3 separate regions of the Homo sapiens genome follow, and regions 1 and 2 are each linked to region 3. The links come from fine-mapping of genetic effects on gene expression. A gene starts in region 3. Each other region holds a variant in brackets. All regions are shown on one strand. Distances are between the middles of the regions. Region 1 has its middle 27 kb from the start of TMEM131. Region 2 has its middle 42 kb from the start of FAM178B. Region 3 holds the start of C2orf92 (chromosome 2 open reading frame 92).

Region 1 (5,230 bases), 350 kb after region 3:
AAGTAGAACACTGATCAGGAAATGGGAAGTCTTTCTAAGACTGTGAGTGAACTGAAATTTCTGTATGTGTGGTCTCCTTCCATTCCTTGTGGTACAATAGAAGTGAAATTAATGGTGAAGAAGGTTTCTCGAGTTAGGAACAATCCCTGTCATTGACACATTCCTCCTTTCCCCACACTGGGCACCTTCTGCTATACAGTCCCCCTTGGCCCCTGACCTCACAGTCTCAGCCCCTCACATGCTCCCAAGCTGGCCCTCATTCCAACAGCCTTTTAAGCAGCAAGTTGTGAATCAGGGTGTGTCTGAGCCTCCCAGAGTTGCTGTAAAAAAACACTGCAAACAAGGTGGCTTCGAGGAACGGAAATGATTATCTCACAATTCTGGAGGTTGAAAGGACGGAATCAAGGTGTGGACAGGGCCACCTCCCTCTGCAACCTGCAGGGAAAAGACCTTTCCTTGCCTCTCCCTAGCTTCTACCAGTTTGCCAGCAGACGTTGGTTTTTCTTGACTTGTAGGTGCATTGCCCCAATCCTCCCTCTTCACGTGGCCATCTTCTTTCTGCGTGTCTGTCTCTGTGTTCAGATTTCTCCTTTTTATAGGGATACCAGTCATACTGGATTAGGGCCCACCTGAATGACTGACTTCATTTCAACTTGATTACATCTGGACAGACCCCATTTCCAAATAAGGTTACAGTGCTCACACTGTACAGGGGGCTAGGATGTCAGTCAACATATCTTTTCCGGGGAACACGATTCCACCCATCACTGGGTGCTAGGTCAAGGGTTCAGTTCTATGTCCTTCAGCACTTATGAAACTGAGAGGACCCCATGGTTCTGCTTCCTCAAATTACTCCCATCTTTGGGCCTGCCCAGGACCAGGCTGCAGTGATGCCAAGTGCCTGGGCTCCCAGATAACACAGCGGGCAGGCCGTCTCTATGTGAGTAACGCATCTGACGGCTCCCCAGGGCTGGAGATTACCCTGGAGCCCTCCGGCTTCATCTGACCAGGTCTCCTTGCTTTCCCTTCACTTGAAGGGCTATTTTTATCCTGTTGTGCTGTGTGTTTGCTCTCACAATTCTCCTCAACTGTTTCAGGGAGGAAATAAGGTATAAAAATAAATTACATGAATGGCAATTCCCTACCACAGTTTGGTGGCTTCATTACATAGCAGCACAGGGGCAGGCTATGAATGCCAGGGCCCCAGTGTTGCCATGACAACAGCAGGGCGCCGCCTCCTCCACTTGGCCCTTCCCCAACCTCCATTCCCAGTGCCAGTTCAGCCTCATGCCTCTGCCTTCTGAGAAGCCACCCCTGAACAACAGACAGGGCTGCAGCCCTCCTCGTGCTGTCCCAGAACCCTGGGCCCTTCTGGCCACTGCACTCACCGAGTGGCCTTCCCTTAGTTCTGTCTCTCTAGAACACAAGCTCCTAGAAGTCAGGGACCATGCCTGTTCCATCGTTTGCTCCCATCAGCATCGAATTCAGAACTCTACCCATAGTAATTGCTCAAGAAATGCTAACGAATGGTAGAAGGGAAAAGCCTATGGGGAATTGCCACAGCAGACTGGAGGACCAGGAGCTGTGATCATGGAGGGTGTCCCCAGAGCTGCTGTTATGTATTGCCACATGTACCTATTTAAATTCAAGCTTAGTTAAATTTAAATTAACTGAAACTAAAAATTCACTTCCTGGCCGGGTGTGGTGGCTCACGCCTGTAATCCCAGCACTTTGGGAGGCTGAGGCAGGTGGATCACCTGAGGTCAGGAGTTCAAGACCATCTTGTCCAATATGGTGAAACTCCATCTCTACTAAAAAAACACAAATTAGCTGGGTGTGGTGGCACATGCTTGTAGTCCCAGCTACTAGGGAGGCTGAGGCAGGAGAATTGCTTGAACCCGGGAGGCAGAGGTTGCAGTGAACCGAGATGGCACCACTACACTCCAGCCTGGCCAACAGAGTAAGACTCCATCTCAAAAAAAAATTCACTTCCTCATTCCCACTGGCCACAAATGCTAAATGGTCACATATGGCTAGTGACTATCATATTCGACAGTGTAGCTGCTGAACATTTCCATGATCACAGAAAGTTCTATTGGGCAGTGCTGCCCTAAGAGGACTCCATAACCAGTGTCCCTGGGGTGCTCTTGCTGCTTGTTAATTGCACTCCCAGCCCATTGGAACCATTTAACTAGATTTAACACTAGGAACCAAAGAGAAAATGTCAGCAGTCTATCCCTCTGTCAGGATCATGAGCTAATGTCCCCTCACCAGAGAGAG[GA/G]AACACAAGTGACTCCTTAGTTTTTCAACAAGCCTCGACCTTTATGCCTCCATGTCTTTGCATATTCAGTTCCTCTGCCGGGGAAGTCCACGCTGATGAGAACTCCTGAGTTCTTATCTATGCTTCAGGTGAAGGCAGAAATGCCTGTACATGCATAAATCCTTTTCCCCCTCATCCTCCCCTCAATTGTGTGTGTGTGTGCGTGGGTATGTAGAATCTATCTTCTCACACTACATCCTCTCTATCTGTTATGCGGTGGCATCGAAATTGATGAGCAGATAATGTGTCGTAATTAGCCCAGAGGCAAAAATCAAGCAGAACCAGAAGTGCCTTAGAAAATCTCTTAAATCTGCTGCAGAGCCTGCATCCTTGGTTTCATTTATGCAAAGCTATACAGAAATTCTTATCCTCATAAGAGAGGGTTCTACATGAAGAGAGGTACAGTCATTGGATGCAGGCAGGCTCTAATGATACAGTCCATTAAAATGGAGACCAGGTCTGAAGAACCCCTGAGCAGACAGAACCATAAGTCAGGCCTCACAAATGACCACGACCTTGCTTGATTTGTAAACATAAGCAAAACTTAACTCGAGCTATTTCTTGTAAATATTTGTATTAAAGGAAAACAGAACTTAAGCTCAACCAGTCAGAAGCATCCAACAAACTTGTAATTATATAACTAGAGACTTTCCAACAGGATAGACTAGGGGTCCCCAATACCTGGGCCGTGGACTGGTACTGGTCCGTGGCCTGTTAGGAACTGGGCCGTGCAGCAGGAGGTGGGTGAGCAAGGAGTATTACCGCCCCAGCTTTGCCTCCTGTCAGATCAGCGGTGGCATTAGATTCTCAAAGGAGCACAAACCCTATTGTGAACTGTGCATGAGAAGGATCTAGGTTGTACGTGCCTTATGAGAATCTAATGCCTGATGATCTGAGGTGGAACAGTTTCATCCCGAAACCACCCCACAGCCTTCCCATCTGTAGAAAAGTTATCTTCCATGAATCCAGTCCCTGGTGCCAAAAAGGTTGGGGACTGCTGTTCTAGTGGATTCTTTTTAAAGTAAACTTTTTGGCCTGATGCGGTGGCTCACGTCTGTAATCCCAGCACTTTAGGAGGCCAAGGTGGGCAGATCACCTGAGATCAGGGGTTTGAGACCAGCCTGGCCAACATGGTGAAACCCTGTCTCAACTTAAAGTACAAAAATGAGCCGGGCATCATAGTGGGCGCCTGTAATCCCAGCTACTCAGAGGTTGCAGTGAACAGAGGTCGCGTCACTGTACTCCAGTCCGGGTGACAGAGCGAGACTGCATCTCAAACAACGACAACAACAAACTTTTTAACTGAAGTTTCAGGTTGTGATACAATTTATGTTGTGCTGGCCTCTTAATCTTTTTGTCTTTTCTCTGTAAAGGTTTACATAATATCGTGGGATATTGGGAGAAATTTTCTATTGGCACCATCAGAGCTTAGCTTATTCTTTGTGACAGATTTTAAATTATATATTCATTTTTACCTAATAAATATAGAATGACTTATATTTTTTATTCCTCATTGTGACTATTTTGGAAAATAGTGCTTTTCGAGGAATTTGCTCATTGCATCTAAATGTCTAAGTTTATTGGTATCAAGTTATTTATATTGCCTTCTCATTATCCTCTTATTGTCTTTAGGATCTTTATAACTGTATGTTGGTGTTTTATGCTTTTTCTCTATTTTTCTTCATTGGTTCAGGTAGGAGATTATCAATTTTATTAGTCTAAAAACTAATTTTAGGCTTCTTAGATTTTTAAGTATTGCATGTTTGTTTTTTATTACATTGATTTTTGTTCTTTATTATTTTCTTCTTTCTATTTCTTTTGGTTTTAATTTGATGATTATCTTCTAGGTTTCTTGAAATAGTTACTTAGGTAATTGCTTTTCAGCCTTTTTCTCCCATTATAAATGCATTTAATGCCACAAAGTTCCCTCTAAGTATGACATTAGCTGAATGCCATACATTGTCTGTTTTTTTTATCATTTAAAATATTTCATAATTTCCATTGTGATTTCTATGTTGACTTCTGGATTATTTAGAATAATCACATTTTCTTGTTAAATTGACTCTTTTATTATTATAAAATGTTCTTTGTCTCTAATAATAGTTCTTGTCTTAAAGTCTACTTTGTCTGATATAGCAAAGCTACACAATTTACTTTTGGTTATATTTTTTCTATCCTGTTAATTTCAACCTTTCATAGTTTCTATATTTAAAATATTTCTTTTAAGCAGCATAGTTTTTGGCTCATTTTAATTGAGTCTGACAATGTTTTCGGTTTTTAATTACTTAGTTCATTTACATTAATATAATTAATTCTATATCTGGGTTTAAATCAACCGTCTTATCCATTTTTCTATTTGTTCTATATTTTCATTGTTTTTTAATATTTATCCTTTCTTGACTTCTTTTAGATTAACAACCTTTTTTTGGTTGTGTTTTTGTTATTCCATTTCATGCCCCTTCCTTTATTATTAGTTACATATTCTCTTATTATTCGCTTGCCTTAGAGATTGCAAAATGCATTTTTGACTTTGTGAGTGTCCCTTAAATTAATGCTTTCACCACTTTTCAGACAGTGCAACGACCTTAGAATGCTTTATTATATGTAGTTTTGGAGACAGGGTCTCAGTCTGTCACTGGGGCTAGAGTGCAGTGGCACAATCACAGTTAACTACAGCCTCCACCTCCTGGGCTCAAGCAATCCTCCCACCGATGCCCCACCCCACCCCAGGGAAGCTGGGACTACAGGTGCGCATCACTGCATCTTGCTAATTTTTTAGATTTTTGGTAAAGACAAGGTCTTGCTATGTTGCCCAGGCTGGTCTTAAACTGGGCTCACGGGATCCTCCCACCTCAGCCTCCCAAAGCGCTGGGATTATAGGCATGAGCTACCACACCTGACCAGAACACT
Region 2 (5,230 bases), 640 kb before region 3:
TCTTCCTTATCCAGGAGTCGTTACAGACTCCCAGAGCCCAGTCACAAGAGTTGTCCACATCCAGCTCCCAGTAGTGTTTCCCAAAGGAGAAGACCCTGGCTCCCCATGCAGCAAAATAGTCAGATCTGTCAGAATTCAAAGGTCCACGTCTAAACATCCAACTTCTCACATCCTCAAAGAGCCTGATATTGTGATTGGTTACTTCACAATGGAAGGAAATTTCCACTGTAGAAAAAAGAGAATATTCCAGTGAAAAGCAGTTTACAAATTCTTATGTTCAGATAAGAAAGAGATTCTCACTAGAAAACACAGGTCAAGATTAGAAAGAAACTTCTGTCTGGAAAAATGTTGGAATCAAAGGGTGTTAGGAGATCTGCACAAGTAAATGGCTAAACTAGGATGATCACAATTTCCATAAACTCAAAAAGTATAAAGGGGAGGAAGGTCATGTCTATGTCTCGTTAGCGACCTTTCATAACAACTGAAAAACTGGAAGCTCCTGCACTGCAGCCAAGTCCATAGCAATAAAATTAACCTTCATTGTCTCTTCTCTGTCAGGGCAGAGCAGGAGGCTTTGGACAGGAGATGAGGTGGGCAGCCATTCTTAGTCCCAAATAAAAAAGTTATCACTTTCCAGAAATATTATGATCTGCCACTTAACCTAGCAAATTCATACTTAAAGAGAAAATCTGAATCTGCCTTCTGAAAAGTGCAGATTCCTTGCAAGAATTATCTGACTTTCATGCCAGATTCAGGCACAGACTTCTTTTATTCTGCTGGATTTGTCATGATCTATCCTGGAGTTCTATCTAAGACCTCGTCAACCACCAAATCCTGTTCCTATTGTTGACAGATTCTCAGTTTTTGCATTGTTATATAAGTTACTCATGTATGCTTTAGTTGATTAAAAACATGATTAAAATTATAAATGCTATGAAACTTCACCTAAAAATGTATTTAAAAAAAACACTGTCACTCAAATCAGTCGTTAACTGCACTGAATTTGAAATTGAAATGTCCTGAATTCAGTTCTGTATACTTCATGTAATAATTGTATACATGAAATTGTATCAGAGAATGGTTCCTAAAGTCCTAAAGAGCCCTTCTGCATGTTTTATTTTTCTAAGAAATTTGTTATATGGCTGATTCCTATTACATTTCACCAGCTTTTATTTTGTTTTGTCTGTTTGATGATAGTGAAACTATAAATACCTATTCACAGGCTATTCTCTTCTTCTAGATGAAAGATCATTACACTGGGAAAGCTGCCCATAGAAAACCATAATTGAAGGCATTGCATGGGGATCCCACCAACAGGGCCACACTCACCTCGGAAGCGGTTGAGCCTGTACACCAGTCCAGTGATGGGCCCTGCTGTGAGCTCTGGATTCACAGGCTGGGGCATGTGCAGCAGCACGGGCTCACTCCTGCAAGGAAGTAGGTTGAGTTGGTTAACTTTCTGATGTCTGTGTTTAAGAAACAGATTACAATAGAAAATGCTTCATTCAAGCTCACTTCTGATACCGTAATGTACCTCCACAACGCTAGGTTGGGTTTGTGGCTCTTAGGGAATCTTTCTAACTATTCACTCCATTTCTAACCTACTGCCACTGAAAGATAAATGCCTCTCTCCCTATCTGCCACCAAATAGTTTATCTCTAATTATGATTCTGAATCGCAAAAAGAGGCAACTGTATTCTAGCAACCTCTGCATTGCACTCTTCAAAACATAAACCCCTGAGTCACCTGGGAAAGTAAGAAAAGATTAATATCTGATAAAAGGCATAGGTGACATTCATCATACCACATAAACACATGAGTACACACACATACACACACAATCACACTGACACATTATGGTGTTAGTAAATTATGTTTTCACTTTGTTGGAAACAGCTTGATGTTTTTCATAGCATGCCTTGTGCTCCAGTTTGCACTGGTGGCCAAAAACATACCTTGCCACGATGTCTCCCAAATCCTGTAGAGAGAGAGAGAGAAAAAAAAAATGACTTCTTTAGAAAGTTGTTATTCTTGTTGGGTGAGGTGGTTCACACCTGTAATCCCAGCACTTTGGGAGGCCAAGGTGGGTGGAACACCTGAGGTCAGGAGTTCCAGACTAGCCTGGACAACATGGCAAATCCCATTTCTACTAAAAATACACACACACACACAAATAGTGGGGTGTGGTGGTGCATGCCTTTAGTCCCAGCTACTAGGGAGGCTGAGGCAGGAGAATTGCTTGAACCAAGGAGGCAGAAGTTGCAGTGAGCTGAGATTGGGCCACTGGACTTCTGTCTGGGTGACAGAAGAAGACTCTGTCTCAAAATAAACACACAAAAAAGTTGTTATTCTGCCTATCTGGTCTTCAGGTTTTGAAAACTTTAGAATTACCACATACTATCACTGCAACTATTTTAAAATGTATTCTTATCTCTAACAATTATACCAGTAAGACCTATTGACAATATGGATTTCTGATAAATTAAGGACCCTAAATTTGAGTGAGAGAGAAAGGTGTGAGTAGTGACTGCGCATTGCTGCAGCTGTCTACAACGTGGTCTTTTTCAGGGCTAGTCCCCAAAGTGTAATGTGGCTCAAATCAAGAGCATTTCAAACCTAGGACTTCCCAAAAGGAGGAAGAAGGAAATGTCAGTTTTTCCATAATTTCTATGTATTATCCATTGGAGTTAAAAATAGAATTTTCACATGAAATTTTTTCTTCCAGAGTTTTAATGAAATGCGCTGGAGGAGGAAGCTTGTGGTAGAAAATGTTGTATGGAAAGCTAGTTGCACAATTCCATAAAGCTTTATTTCCATTATATAGGGTAGGAGTTATAGTTTATCTCTATAACCGGTGGGAATGACTCTCATCGTCAGTGCAGGAAACGAAGAAATAATGTCTTTGGTACCCAATGGAAGGCAAAGATGTAAAGGTCAGCTAACACAAAGTGTCTCAAGGGGCATCCTCCGTTCTTACCTGGAGCAGCTCCACATCTGGTTTATGACACATTTCCATTAGTTCCTGATACATTTCTTTTAAGTGTTTACTCTTTTGATCCATTTTGACCCAGCTTCTCTGGAGTTGCTGAAAAATCTCTTGGTATTCCTTGTTCAGTCTCTCTAAATGTTGTTTTTCTTCCTTATGGAGAACCGGATGCAGCTTCC[T/C]ATACTCATTCCTGATCATCTGTGCCCGTAAAACCACATCGCCCTGTAGGGATATGAATTTTGTAGGTTATATACCCAGGCCTACTTCCACATCACAGAACCCACAACTTCATCCTCCTCATTCCTTCTTTTATTTTCCATCCTTTACAAACAGGATGATGAGTTAAGCAAGACCTTCCTTCAAAATTTGTGTAATTCATCAATTCCCAAACATCTGCAAAAAAGCCCTTTGGATTTAAATGTTTAAATCTATGTCCTCTCAAATCGGAAATACCATTAGAAAACAACTAAAATTTATGATTGATTGTTCAGTTGTCATGGATAATACACATAATCTTTGTTACTCAATTAGGTTGTTGTTTCAAATCTCTGTACTTCACAGCCTGAACAATCACTCTTAGTAGAAATGTTTTTAGTATATTATAATCAGGATCAGAAGCCATCACACAAAAAAGATCTTAGTAAAAAATTTAACCCCCATCTCTCAAACCGACTACCTCTTTTCTGTCTCCTGTCTTTCTTCTGTCAAATCCATAGACTCTGTATTGCACTGCCATTCTAAGAACATTAATCCCCATTCCATTGTGTTTCTCCTCTCAATAATGACATATTTATCCTCTCACTGCCCCAGTCATTTTTTATCCCTTCTCCTCAGCTTTTCCTCACGTTGCATTTTCTCCTACTTGGACTGGCATCATGTGGGTCCTTTGCTATCAGATTTCACCAGCACAGGCACATTTCTTAAATTACTGTTCCCACCCGATTTCTTCCCCCTGGACAATATCATATTCACCAATAAATGCCTTTATTTCTCAATTATATACTATTTAATCAACATTTCATAATTAATTTTATACAGAAAACTCTGTCTGAAATACTTATTAATTTTAAGCACATACTTGCCCTTCAGAATTTATATTTATTTTTTACTTATCTGAAAAGCATTTACAGAAAACCTGAACAATCATTATATTGAACAGTCTGGTTGTTTTCCAGCCTATGAATAAACACATGACAAAATCTGGCATATGAGAATTTCAACTCAAGTTGCTAATATAAATGTTGTCAGCATGCCTGTCTCAAGCTGGTCAGGAGGACTCACGGTCTCATACTCACCCTCCAGAGGAAGGCTGTTCTTCTCTCCTCATATAGATTTCTCTGATTTTCTTGAATCTTTTTCCATAAAATCCTCATTTGCTTTAAGAGTTTCTCCTGCAAAAGAATTACAAGGTTGAACAACAGAAAGTCAAATACCAAAGATTCCACAATCTGAGTGGTATACACAGGCAAGGGATCTAATATATAAATACATTAGTGAGAGGAGAAAAAACCAAAATTTTTCATTGCTCATCCTTAATTGATATTTTTCAGTTTGAGGTTTCAGAATGTAGAACAGTTTAGGGAACTGAAGAATGAAGATTTCCTGTAACCCAGCTAAATTAGTTCAGGGAAACATCCTGCTTCAGAATCCACTATGCTAGCCCCTGATTTTGTAGCGTGCTACTCCCATACTCATTTGTCCAGTAATATTAAATATATTTCCAAAATACATTTCTTTGCACTGGTAGCTTTGGTAGCTTTTCAATGTCATTAGCATTGAACTGTAGAGTCAATAATAATGACATTTACTTAATCAGTCTCTTTTTGGGTGCAAGCTCCATGAAGGAAGGTAGAGTTGCACATTTTATTCAAAATGTCATCATTGGTACCTAGAACAGCACCTGGCACTCAGTAAAGAATGGAGTAATCACCGTGATTCTCATCATCCTTCTAATCTCTTTAACTCTGCCACCCTCCAGCTTTCAGGTGATCACAGAGCTATCTCTTACCCGGTGTTCCTCAGCTGCCTCTTCGATGGGATAGTGTTTGTGAGCCCCGTGCTCCTGAGAGTTGGAGCACAGCAAGCAGAGGAGACTCTTGTCCATGTCACAGAACATCTTCTTTGTTTGCCTATGGGTCCCACATATTTGTTTCTCAGAGCTCAGGAATTGCCAGAGACTGGCTTTTCTGGCAATGGTCACTAAATTCTTCAGAAGAATATTGGTTTTGAAGTCCTTTTTCTGTG
Region 3 (5,230 bases):
AATAGATCACTGTGTAGCCATTAAAAATAATGAGAGAGTGCTATATAATTTCATATGAAACATATCAGGACACATTGCTAAGTAAAAGCAAAGAGAAAGCAGACACCGAGTGTAGACTGTTATATGCATGAATGTCTCTGAACAGTATATGAGGCACCTTCAGGTCTCTTTTTTATTTTTTTTTTTTTTGAGACAATCTTTCTCTGTTGCCCAGGCTGGAGTGCAGTGGCGCAATCTGGGCTCACTGCAACCTCCACCTGTCGGGTTCAGGCAATTCTCCTGGCTCAGCCTCCCTAGTAGCTGGGATCACAGGTTCCCGCCACCATGCCCAGCTAAGTTTTTTTTTTTTTTTTTTTTGAGATGGAGTCTCACTCTGTCACCCAGGCTGGAGTGCAGTGGTGCGGTCTCGGCTCACTGCAAGCTCCGCCTCCCGGGTTCATGCCATTCTCCTGCCTCAGCCTCCCGAGTAGCTGGGACTACAGGCGCCCACCACCACGCCTGGCTAATTTTTTGTATTTTTAGTAGAGATGGGGTTTCACCGTGTTAGCCAGGATGATCTCGATCTCCTGACCTTGTGATCTGCCTGCCTCGGCCTCCCAAAATGCTGGGATTACAGGTGTGAGCCACCGTGCCTGGCCCCAAAGATGATTGTCTTATAAAAGCCTATGTAACCCTTTTCATTTTTTCTTTAAAAAATGTCTTCCTTTACCTCCTGGAACACATCCATACTTATTCCCATTGTAATGCCCGTTCCTGAATAAACATCATTGTTTTTTTAGAGAGGGAGAGAGAGTCCATTGGTGAGAGAGTCTCACCAATCTCCTGTCCCCAGGGCACTTCCACCCCTGGGTATTTGTACTGATCAACCAGGTTACGCTTTCAGCATTTGCAAACTCAGGATGGAGATTTTAGACCCTCTTCAACCTCCAGGTTTCCTCTTTGCAAAGGCCAGCAGCAGAAGCAAAAGAGATGGAGCCCGGGTTAGCATTTATTTTTCTATTTACCAGTCATTTGGAATTTGGACATTTTCTGTCCTGTGGTTGTGGTGAGGGTGTGGGTTTTGTGTTGTTTTATATATTCTTTGTTATTTTTTATTCTAGTTTTTGTTTTTGTTTTGGAAGGTATTTTAGAGAAATAAGATTTCTGTGGTTACCATGACCTGCTGTTACAGATTACATGGTACCCTCTCTTCATATGTTGAAGTCCTAGCCACCCCGCCGAACCTCAGAATGTGACTGTATTTGGAGATAGGGTCTTTACAGAGGAAATCAAGTTAAAATGAAGTCATTAGGGCAGGCCCTAATCCGATATGATCCTGTGTTCTTAGAAGAGGAAATGTGGACTCAGGTGTGTATGGAGGGAAGATGTCTTGCAAGCCCAAGGAGAAGATGGCCATCTGAGCCCACGTCCTGGAACAGAGACTTCCCTCACAGCCTCAGAAAGAACCAGCCCTGCTGACGTCTTGATCTCAGACCTCCAGCCTCCAGAACTGGGAGACGATTCAGTCAGCATCTACACAACACAGGGTTGAACTGTGCGGGTCCACTTCTATGCAGATTATTTTCTTTTTTCTTTTTTGAGACAGAGTCTCGCCCGGTTGCTCAGGCTGAAGTGTAGTGGTGTGATCTTGGCTTACTGCAGCTTCCACCTCCCAGGTGCAAGTGATTCTCCTGCCTCAGCTTCCCAAGTAGCTGGGACTATGGGTACTCGCCACCACACCTGGCTAATTTTTGTATTTTTAGTAGAGATGGGGTTTCACCATGTTGGTCAGGCTGGTCTTGAACTCCTGACCCCAAGTGATCTGCCTGCCTTGGCCTCCCAGATTGCTGGGATTACAGGTGTGAGCCACCGTGCCCGGCCCTATATAACTCTTTGTGCAAGTTTTTACCCCTAAAAGATATCTGCCATCTCAGCCATGGAACAGACACTGTAAGAACATGAAGGCTCAAGGGCAGGGCTGGCTACATAATTTGTGGGACCCATTACAAAATGAACATGGAGAAAAAACTAGAAAAAAGTGTAGTACAAGGTACTATAATAGATTTTTCCTTTGAAAACAGTTTAATACTTATAAAATGTAATAGAGGGAAATAGTGACACGTGAGTAACAAAATGGGCGTATCAATTGGTCTATGCTATTTTTGGTGTTATAATTTTACCTAATATAATAAGCAGCAACACTTTGTTAGTGAGACGGGCTTTCACCATGTTGGCCAGGCTGGTCTGGAACTCCTGACCTCAGGTGATCCGCCTGCCTCAGCCTTCCAAAGTGCTGGGATTACAGGTGTGAGCCTCTGCGCCCGGCTGTGATGTCTTGATTGATCATAGGATTTTTCTGGCTATTCTAGCTACTTCCAATTCGCTTCAGCCAATTTAGTTGAAGTTTTATCACTTGTGACTTCAGAGTCCTGGTTAATATCCTGTTGCCCTCAGGACATGCAGGATGGAGGAAGGCACCAGGGAGCCGAGGGAAGTGAGCAGAGAGGCAGTCACTTCAGGGCCACCAGCATAGCCCCCGTCACTGTCCACAGACACAGGCCCTTCCCCTTCTCATGGTTGAGCAGGCTCCACCTCACTTCCGTGTATGACTTCATAGACCGTTAGGTTCCGTGGTACCCTGGAGTCCACAGCTGCTGAATCTGAAGGGCCATCAGAAGACTGGCTTCTCCATGATGGTTTATGGACTAAGGCAAAGATGAGCAGAGCCATGGCCCTCTTCTTTGTTCTCTGCTGGATCCAAGGTATATTGCTGTGGCAGCTGGAGAGAAACATGGGCCTCACTTCAAGCCTAAGTGGGGCAGAGGAGGGCGTTCCCTCCCACAGTGTGGGGAACACAGATGCTTTACCTACTCTACCTTCTATACCTCCCCAAATCTGCCATTCAGGGTTTATTACTTGGGGGAAGGGAGTAACTGAAAACATTTTCCTAACTTTGAAGCTTTCTCAAAATTCAGAGCTCTATAGGAGGGTGGCATACATGCGTATTTTAACTTTTCACTGTAAGCATTTCCAAACATATGCAAAAGTAGAAAGATTAGTATAAAGAACCACCATATGCTAACTAACCCTCCTGATTTTATCTATATATATGCACTATTTAAAAAATAACAGGGTTAGGCCGGGTACAGTGGCTCACTCTTGTAACTCCAGCACTTTAGGAGGCCAAGGCAGGAGGATTCCTTGAGCTCAGGAGTTTGTGACAGGCCTAGGCAACATCATGAGAGCCTGTCTGTATAAAAAATTTTAAAATTAGCCATGCATGGTGATGCGTGCGTGTGGTCCCAGCTACTAGGGAGGCTGAGGTGGGATGATCACTTGAGCCCAAAAAGTCGAGGCTGCAGTAAGCCGTGATCACACCACTGCACTCAAGCTTGGGCAACAGAGTGGGATCCTGTCTCAAAAAAAAAAAATTAGTAATAACTTTATAGGATATAATATATAATAAAATTCACCCTTTATTTTATTTTTCTATTTATTGTTATTATTTTTGAGATAGGTTCTCCCTCTGTCACCCAGAGCTGGAGTGCGGTGGCATAATCACAGCTAATTGCAGCCTCAACATTCCAGGCCCAAGGATCCTCCCTTCAGCCTTCCAGGTAGCTGGGACCACAGGCATGTACCACCACACCCAGCTAATTTTTTAAATTTCTGTAGAAATAGGGATCTCACTATGTTGCCCAGGCTGGTCTCAAACTCCTGGGCTCAAGTGATCCTCCTACCTTGGCCTCCCAAAGTGCTGGAATTACAGGCATGAACCACTATGTCTGGCCAAATTTACCCTTTACAAAGTATATAATTCAGTGGTTTTTAGTATACTCATAGAGTTGTGAAGCATCACTATCTAATTTTATTTAATTTTTAATTTTTTAATTTTTTGAGATGGAGTGTCGCTCTCTCACCCAGGCTGGAGTGCAGTGGCGCTATCTTGGCTCACTGCAACATCTGCTTCCCAGGTTCAAGTGATTATCCTGCCTCAGCCTCCCAAGTTGCTGGGATTACAGGCGTGTGCCACCACGCCTGGCTAATTTACTAAACTAATAAATTACTAAATTAGTAAGTTACTAGTAAATTAGTAATTACTAAAATATAATTTTTAGTAGAGATGGGATTTCATCATGTTGGCCAGGCTGGTCATGAACTCCTGACCTCAATGGATCCTCCTGCCTCAGCTTCCTGAGTAGCTGGGACCACAGGTGCACACCACCACGCCCAGGTAATTAATTTTTATTTTTTGTAGAGTCGGGGGTCTCCCTATGTTTCCCAGGCTGGCCTCGAACTCCTGACCTCAAGTGATCCTCCCACCTCAGCCTCCCCGAGTGCTGGGATTAAAGACGTGAGCCACGGCACCTGGCCTGAATTTTCCTCAAATTCAAAAAATCCTGATGAAGGTTTGGCTAAAATCTTTGGTGAGTTACCCCACTCCCTGTGGAACCTCAGGCTGGATTTGAAGAGTTGCGTGCATGGTCCTCATTGTCTCCCAGGTAACCTGTTCCCGCTGCTGTGAAGGGAAGGCAGGTGCTCTTCCTTGAGGCTAGAATCTGTCTACGTGTCACAGTCTCAGGAAATTAAGCAAAACAGATGATAAACACCTCAAAAGGACCCTACTGAGCATCAGTGGAGCAGAGCAGGGCCATGTGGGACTGCGGCGTCAGATGCCACCTCACACTAGCTGTGACACACCTGCCTCGCCAGTTTCTGCTCTGAGGCCCCAAAGCCGAGCTGAACCTCCTCCAGGGGTTCTCAGCCCTAACTGAGCATGAAAACCCCTGGGGCAATCCTCTTTTTAACAATTGAGACATTCCACACACACCCCACATCAGATTTTGGGGTGTGGGGATAGACCTTCACATTTGTAGTTTTCTAACCCTCCAGGGGACACTAGGCTGAGACTCATTGGTCTCCACTCTGAACCTTCCACTGAACATGTGAGAAAAACTAAGGCCCAGGGAAGTCTTTAGCAGAGAGCTGAGACGGAGAAAAGGGTTCTGAACCACAGCTGTCTGCTGAAGGAAGCTGTCCAAAGGCCAGTGAAGTCTCTCCTGAGGGTGCCTGGGCTGTGCATCAGGAGTGAAGGTTGAGGGTCACCTTAGGTGTGAGAAGGAGCAACTGGGAGAGTGGCGCTGATGCTTCCCCCCGGGTTAGGAGGCATTTGGATCACAGAGCGATGCCTGTTCATTCCTGCTTGCAAGGGAGCAGATCTCTCGACACCCGATGGGCCTCTATTCCGTTC

The links. PIP is the estimated chance that this variant, and not a neighbour inherited with it, causes the effect.
Region 1: its variant is the best candidate, but not a certain one, in a credible set for the expression of C2orf92 in stomach (GTEx, PIP 0.86).
Region 2: its variant is the best candidate, but not a certain one, in a credible set for the expression of C2orf92 in blood mononuclear cells (TOPMed, PIP 0.50).

Annotation. Positions count from the first base shown.
Region 1 is chr2:98,020,260-98,025,489 of GRCh38, forward strand. No RefSeq gene overlaps it. Among named protein-coding and RNA genes, the nearest start is that of TMEM131, 27 kb to the left of the region's middle. The variant GA/G (reference allele first, on the strand shown) is at 2,281.
Region 2 is chr2:97,026,232-97,031,461 of GRCh38, forward strand. It overlaps the pseudogene TRIM43CP. Among named protein-coding and RNA genes, the nearest start is that of FAM178B, 42 kb to the left of the region's middle. The variant T/C (reference allele first, on the strand shown) is at 3,166.
Region 3 is chr2:97,667,094-97,672,323 of GRCh38, forward strand. C2orf92 (chromosome 2 open reading frame 92) reads left to right here and starts at 2,620. Exons shown (of 8, transcript NM_001351368.2): 1 at 2,620-2,741. The coding sequence starts at 2,696.